Linked DNA regions of Homo sapiens. The protein of the gene in region 2 interacts with the protein of the main gene of each other region in a biochemical or structural test. Each region holds a gene or a part of one and is shown on either strand. Other genes may lie near its edges. The genes, in order: ATF7 and NFE2.

The links.
Region 1: the proteins of NFE2 (region 2) and ATF7 interact in a test that uses a peptide from one of them, tested with the Homo sapiens proteins (one large-scale study listed by IntAct).

Annotation. Positions count from the first base shown.
Region 1 is NC_000012.12:53,518,357-53,522,173, forward strand, and holds part of ATF7 (cyclic AMP-dependent transcription factor ATF-7), read right to left. Parts: intron 1-3,817. UniProt on the Homo sapiens protein: Stress-responsive chromatin regulator that plays a role in various biological processes including innate immunological memory, adipocyte differentiation or telomerase regulation.
Region 2 is NC_000012.12:54,291,339-54,294,858, forward strand, and holds the end of NFE2 (transcription factor NF-E2 45 kDa subunit), read right to left. Parts: intron 3,516-3,520; exon of another isoform or gene 3,412-3,515; intron 2,044-3,411; coding exon 1,036-2,043; 3' UTR 773-1,035; downstream 1-772. UniProt on the Homo sapiens protein: Component of the NF-E2 complex essential for regulating erythroid and megakaryocytic maturation and differentiation. Binds to the hypersensitive site 2 (HS2) of the beta-globin control region (LCR).

The DNA.
Region 1 (3,817 bases), 770 kb from region 2:
TATAAGTTATGCCACTCCACCTAAAGTGACACTAACATTTTACTACTAAACACAACTACCTGAGCTACATACAATGGTAACTCCATGTTGCTCATTAGTCAAATGTTTTTAAAATTTTTTTAGAGGGTCTCACTCTGTCACCCAGGCTGGAGGTGCCATGGCACAATCACAGCTCACAGCAGCCTTCAACTGCTGGCCTCAAGCCATCCTCCTGCTTCAGACTCCCAAATTGCCGGGATTACAGGTATGAGTCATCACACTCAGCAAGTCAAGGAGTTTTATTAAACATCGGATAGCCTCTATGGCTGCTTAAACAGAAATATGTGGAAAAAAGGCAAACGTTCCATAGTCAGTTGTATTTCTGACATCCTGATGAATGCCTGAGTCTTCTTTTAAGATTCAAATATGGCCGGGCGCAGTGGCTCACGCCTGTAATCCCAGCACTTTCAGAGGCCAAGCTGGGCGGATCAGGAGGTCAGGAGATCGAGACTACCCTGGCTAACATGGTGAAACCCCGTCTCTACTCAAAAAAAAAAAAAACCAAAAAATTAGCTGGGCATGGTGGCGGGCGCCTGTTGTCCCAGCTACTTGGGAGACTGAGGCAGGAGAATGGTGTGAACCCGGGAGGCAGAGCTTGCAGTGAGCCGAGATTGTGCCACTGCACTCCAGCCTGGGCAACAGAGCGAGACTCCGTCTCAAAAAAAAAAAAAAAAAGATTCAAATATTGCGTCCTCTGTGAAGCCATCTTTGTTACCCTCAGTACATTAACTGTTTTATTCTTTGTGTTTTCACAGCATATATTCATCAAACATTTTACTGAGCATCATCCATGTACCAGGCATGGGTACACAGAGAAGAAAACGGGAACCCTATCCTTAGGAAGCTCCCAGTTTAGGGGCTTTTTAACTGGGATATCTATCCTTACCTCATCCACAGGTTTATATGACCCTATGATTCTCTCAGAGGTAGTGACAGTGTCTTATTCATCATGTGTCAGGTACTTACATAATATCTATACCACACAGCAGGAACTAAATACATCTTTGCTATAATGAATATGTAAGGCCGGGTGCGGTGGCTCACACCTGTAATCCTAGCACTTTGGGAGACAGAGGTGGGCAGATCACATGAAGCCAAGAATTGGAGACTAGCCTGGGGAACATGGTGAAACCCCGTCTCTACTAAAAATACAAAAATGAGCTGGGCGTGGTGGTGCCCGCCTGTAGTCCCAGCTACTCGGGAGGCTGAGGCAGGAGAAAAAAAAAGAATAAGTAGTTTAATGGATTAACTATGTATCAGAGTTCTTGCAGGGACTAAGTGGAAAACTGACCGTATATAGATTATATACTGATAAACAGTCCTTATCCTCTTTAGCCCATCAACAGGATTTGTTTTTTTGGTATTTTTTTAGACAGAGTCTTGCTCTATCACCCAGGCTGGAGTGCAGTGGCACTATTTTGGCTCACTGCAATCTCTGCCTCCTGGGTTCAAGCGATTCTCCTGCCTCAGCTTCCCAACTAGGTGGGACTACAGATGCACGCCACCATGCCTGGCTGATTTTTTTTATTTTTAGTAGAGATGGGGTTTCACCGTGTTAGCCAGGATGGTCTCGATCTCCTGACCTCGTGATCCGCCCGCCTCAGCCTCCCAAAGTGCTGGGATTACAGGCGTGAGCCACCGAGCAACAGGATTTAAAATCACTGAACTTCTTGAAACACTTTTTTATTTTGATTTACAGAATACCACATTTGGCTCTGTAGCTGGTTTTCCTCCTCACTTCCTGGTTGTTTCTTCTCAGTCTCTTGTGGGTTCTTTCTCATTTCTATGAACTGTAAATGTTGGAGTACCCCATGGTTCATTCCTGGGACTTCTCTTTTTCTAGCTCTGCTGTCTCCCTTGGGAACTTCATCTGGTTTCAATGCTTTAAAAACTAACTATGGCCAGGTGTGGTGACTCACACATGTAATTCCAGCACTTTGGGAGGCCAAGGCGGGCAGATCCCTTAAGTCCTGGAGTCTGAGACCAGCCTGGCCAATATGGCAAAACATCATCTCTAAAATAACAAAAAAAAATTAGCTGGGCATGGTGGTGCACGCCTGTGGTCCCAGTTACTCAGGCTGAGTGGGGAGGATCACTTGAGAGCCTGGGAGACAGAGGTGGACCCTGCCTCCAAAAAATCCCAAACCAAACAAAACCAAAACTAGCTATATGCTGCCGACTCCCAGAGTTTTATCTTCAGCCTTTCCTCTGAATTACAAATCCATATAACCAACTGACTGCTTGACATCTCCACCTGTAAGCCTAATAGGCTCCTTAAACTCAGTTTGTCCAAAACTGAGTTCCTGATATACCTCCCAAACCATTTCCCCTACACTTTACCCTATCTCAATTAATGACAACTTCATTCTTGTGGTTGCTTAAGCCAGAAACTTTGGTGTAATTTTTTATTCTTTTTCTCATATATACCATCCCATCTGCTCTCATCACTTTAACTTCAAAACATATCCTGGATTCAGCCTGCTCTCGTCACTTTCACTACCGTCATCCCTTGCTTGTATTACCGTAACAGCCCCTAAGTGGACTGCCTGCTTCTGCCCTTGTACCCCTGATGTCCTGTTCAAATGTAAGTCAGATCAATTTTTTTTTTTTTTTTGAGACGGAATTTCCCTCTTGTTGCCCAGGCTGGAGCGCAATGGCACCATCTCAGCTCACTGCAACCTCCGCTTCCCAGGTTCAAGTGATTCTCCTGCCTCAGGCTCCCAAGTAGCTGGGATTACAGGCGCATGCCACCACGCCCAGCTAATTTTTTGTATTTTTAGTAGAAGCAGTTTCACCATGTTAGCCAGGCTGGTCTCGAACTCTCGACCTCAGGTGATACGCCTGCCTTGGCCTCCCAAAGTGCTGGGATTACAGGCATGCGCCCAGCCTAGTCAGATCAATTATATCACTTTTCTGCTGAAAACCCTCTAATGGCCCCCAGTGTGGAGTAAAAGCTGAGATCCTCACCATGACTGATGAGACCCTACATAAAATGCTGCTATTACGTCCCCTACTTGTCTCCAACTACTCTCCACCCCCAACTCCAGCTGAGCCTCCTTGATGTTCCTAGATGTACCAGGTACCTTGCGACTTTGCATCTTTGCAGTTGCTGATCCTCCTCCCTATAGTACTTTTCTTCCATATAAATGCATATAGCTCCCTCACTTCCTTCAGGTCTTTATTCAAAAGCCACCTAATCTAAAATTTCTATCCTGCTGCTAACATTTCATATTACCCTTCCCTGTTTTATTTTTCTTCTAACATTTACTGTTATCTAACATGTCATATATTTTACCTATTTATCTTGTTTATTGTCTGTCTCACCCACTAAAATATAAGCTCCTCAAGGGCAGGGATTTAATCTAATTTATTTGGTTCCCTATTATATCCCCAGCATGAAAAACAGTGACTGGCACAGAATAGACATTCCATCAATATCTGCTTAATGAATGAATGCACCCTGAAGTACATATTAAAATTAAAATTTAAGTAGAGATGTTTAAAATTGGTGATATAGTTACTCCTTTTCTATGGGAACACATCTCTGAAATAATACAGTGGAAAAATAATACAATATATCAAAGTTTGAGAGCAATAGTTCTATGAATTTAATTTGTAAAAAGAAAACTAGCATTTATTAGCTTTTATTGACCATAGGCAAATTATTCACAGTAATTTTAACTTCAGAATTGCACATGTCCTGAGCACAACTCTGTGGCCATTGCCTTCTAGCAGTATTTTATGTGCACTCATAGATTACAAACTGAAACCAACGTCA
Region 2 (3,520 bases):
AAATCTTCTGAAATTTTGATGTATAAATTCCAGCCAAGAACAGCCCATTCAGTCTTCTGAGAGAACTCTGGCACATTAGGAGGACCCAGGCTGAGAGGTAAGCAGGAGGGGAAGAAAAAAAGAAAGGCCTATGGGCATCCTGGGCTTTTTTGTGCTGGGAGAATTGAGAGAAAAGAGACGTAAACATCAGGAACCTTTGCACAGGGTGTCTAGTCAGTTTGGACAGCTCTCCAAGCTCTACAAATAGGGCACCACCAGGGAGTGTGGGGTTCTTCAGATCATCCATGGCCTCTGACTCTGAAAAGGAGGTGAAGGTGGTAGATCCCCATACTGCTCAAGCCCAGATTTTTTTTTTTTTTTTTGTAGATGGAGTCTCGCTCTGTCACCCAGGCTAGAGTGCAGTGGCGCAATCTCAGCTCACTGCAACCTCTACCTCCCGGATTCCAGTGATTCTCCTGCCTCAGCCTCCTGAGGAACTGGGATTACAGGCGTGCACCACCACACCCAGCTAATTTTTGTACTTTTAGTAGAAATGGGGTTTCACCATTTTGGCCAGGTTGGTCTCGAACTCCTGACCTTGTGATCTGCCCATCTCGGCCTCCCGAAGTGCTGGGATTACAGGTGTGAGCCACCATGCTCAGCCTCAAGCCCAAATTTTATGGTACCTCTCATACAGAGCTCTGGGGAGAATGAAGTGAACTTGGTAAGATTCAAACAGATAATTATCTCAGCTTCCACCCTCCCTCAAGAAGGAAGACACAGTGAAAAGCCATTTCTGTAGCGCACTTTATAGACCAAAGCTTAGACAAGGTGGAGGCTAAAGACCTGAGGAGCCGAGTCAGGGAAGACAGATTCCAGCCCTCCCTCAAGGCAAGCCTCTTTGAACACACCTTGGAACTTCCAAACACTTGTTGCCATTGTCATCCTCTTCTGGTCTAGAGAACTCAGCTCCTTCTGGGACTCAGGGTTGGGGAGTACCTTTATCAGAAGGGAATGAAGGAAATCCCATCAGCAGTTCCACCCCTCTGGGCCAGCTCAGTCTGTGGCCTCCATCTTGGTCCCCCGGGGCACAAGGAAGATGGTCCCATCGGCAGCCTGTTGCAGCGCGTACTCTTCAGGAGAGTAGCTGTTGCCTGATTCATCCCGAAGGTGCTGGAAAATGTCACGGTACAGCTCTGTCAGCTGTTGGCGCATGACCTCCAGGGTCCGGTCTGCCTCCCCGCGGGCCCTGAGAAGCCGCTCCCGTTCATTGGTCAGCCGCTCCAGCTCCCGCTCCAGCTGCACAATGGTTTCCAGCTTCCTCTTGCGGCAGTTCTGGGCTGCCACCTTGTTTTTGCCCCGTCGTCGGATGTCCCGGACTAGCGCTAGCTGGCTCTCTGTCAGCGGGTACCTTGCCAATAGCTCATTAAAGTCATCTACCGGCAAGTTGACAATCTTGTCCGTAGGAAAAGGAATCTTCATGGCCAAGGCCCGACGTTCATCCCGACTCCCTGCCTCCCCCCGTGCAGTGGGCTTAGCCCGCACAGGGCCTGAGGAGGGCTCTAAGGCCAAGGGGGTCTCAGCAGCTGGCAAGGTATAGTTGGAGTGGGCCAAGGAGTTGGGCATGAGTGAGTAGGGGTACTCCACTGGGTACATCTCTACATATTCGCTGCGCCGCCGACCAGCCTCTGTCCCCTCCAGCTCAAGAGATTCAGCATCGCTATAGTTGAGGGATAATCCTGAGTCGGATTCTGGGTCTTCTTGGGGCTTAGGTGGCCCTGCTGGCAGCCCAATGTCCAGGAGGGCTAAGGGGTCTTGGAGCGGCTCACTGAGCAGGCCTGAGAGGCTCAGTGGCTTGGAGACTGGTATGGCCATGTTGCCATAGGAGTATGGGGGATCTGGGACATGGGATGTGGATGCTGGGAGCTCATAAGGTGGTGGAGGAAGTGGGAAGCCAGAATCTGGGTGGATTGAGCAGGGGCAGTAAGTTGTGGGTGGTGGAGGTCCAAGGTATGGAGCTGGGGCTTGGGGCTCAAATGATGGCTCACTTGGAGCATTCAGACCCTGCAAGGAAAGACACAAAGAGATTTGGAGACAGACTAAGGAAGAGAAACCAACACTCTCTCAGGAACAAGCTGGATTCTTCTGAAAGTCGCAGTGAGGTAGTAACAAGGAAACAAAGTTGCCACAAATCACGGGAAGCTTCCTGCAAAGTTATGATACAGTTGTTGCAAGAAAAATGCAGCTTAAAGCCAGGAATGGTGGCTCACACCTATAATCCCAACACTATGGGAGGCCAAGGCGGCAGATCACCTGAGGTCAGGAGTTCGAGACCAGCCTGGACAACATGGTGAAACCCCATCTCTGCTAAAAATACAAAAATTAGCTGGGCATGGTGGTGAATGCCTGTAATCCCAGCTACTTGGGAGGCTGAGGCAGGAGAACTGCTTGAACCCCGGAGGTGGAGGTTGAAGTGAGCCAAGATAGTGCCACTATCCAGCCTGGGCGACAGAGCAAGACTCCCTCTCAAAAAAAGAAAAAATGAAAAATGCAGCTTTAGCAAGAATGGAAGTCACTGAGGTTGGACTGCAGAAAAGACTACCTAACATTGGAACAATTATGAACTCTCCTTGGAGAAGCTCTTACTGGGTTGAAATGGCTCATGTTCGGCCAGGCATGGTGGCTCAGGCCTGTAATCCCAGCACTTTGGGAGGCCAAGGCGGGCGGATCACAGGATCAGATCAAGAACGTCCTGGCTAACACGGTGAAACCCCCTGTCTACTAAAAATACAAAAAATTAGCTGGGGTGGTGGCAGGCGCCTGTAGTCCCAGCTACTTGGGAGGCTGAGGCAGGAGAATGATGTGAACCAAGATTGCACCACTGCACTCCAGCCTGGGCGCCAGAGCGAGACACCGTCTCAAAAAAAAAAAAAAAAGAAATGGCTCATGTTCCTTTATTTCCTTCAGGAAGTCAAAGCCTTTTTATCCAAGATGACCCCTCAGAACCCTTTCCTGCTGCAGTTATCTAGGGTCAAAGGGTCAAGTTCAGATCCTGGCCATGCCCCAGATGCCCAGCAGAGGGAGCCGCTGTGTGGGAAGAGGGCCTAGGGCAGATCCTGAGGGTGCTAAGCATGGTAGCAGGGTAGTAAAAGGGGGGTGGCTGGGGGCTAAGAAGCACCTTGGGGAGCCAGCACAAGCTCTGCCTTCTCCTCTTCAGTCCCTCTGTCCCTGCCCAGGTGCAGCGAGAAGTAGAGAACATGCTAGAAACAAGGCCCCCAACCTACATCAGGGAGCCACCCTGCTCCAGCCCAGCTGGGGACAAAGGCATCATTGTCAAGCCAACAGACACCCCTTTGTCCAAGTAGCAGGAGGAGAGGACCCTGGCATAGTCCGACTCCCCTTCCTGAGGCCCCTGAACTACTGCTCTGTTACCTGGGGTAAACGGGCCCAGTTGCCAAGGGCAGGCGGAGGTAATGAGGGAAGAAGATGGCAGGATCAGAGAGGCAGGTCAGAAGAGAAGAAGGTGAGCACGGGAGGGAGA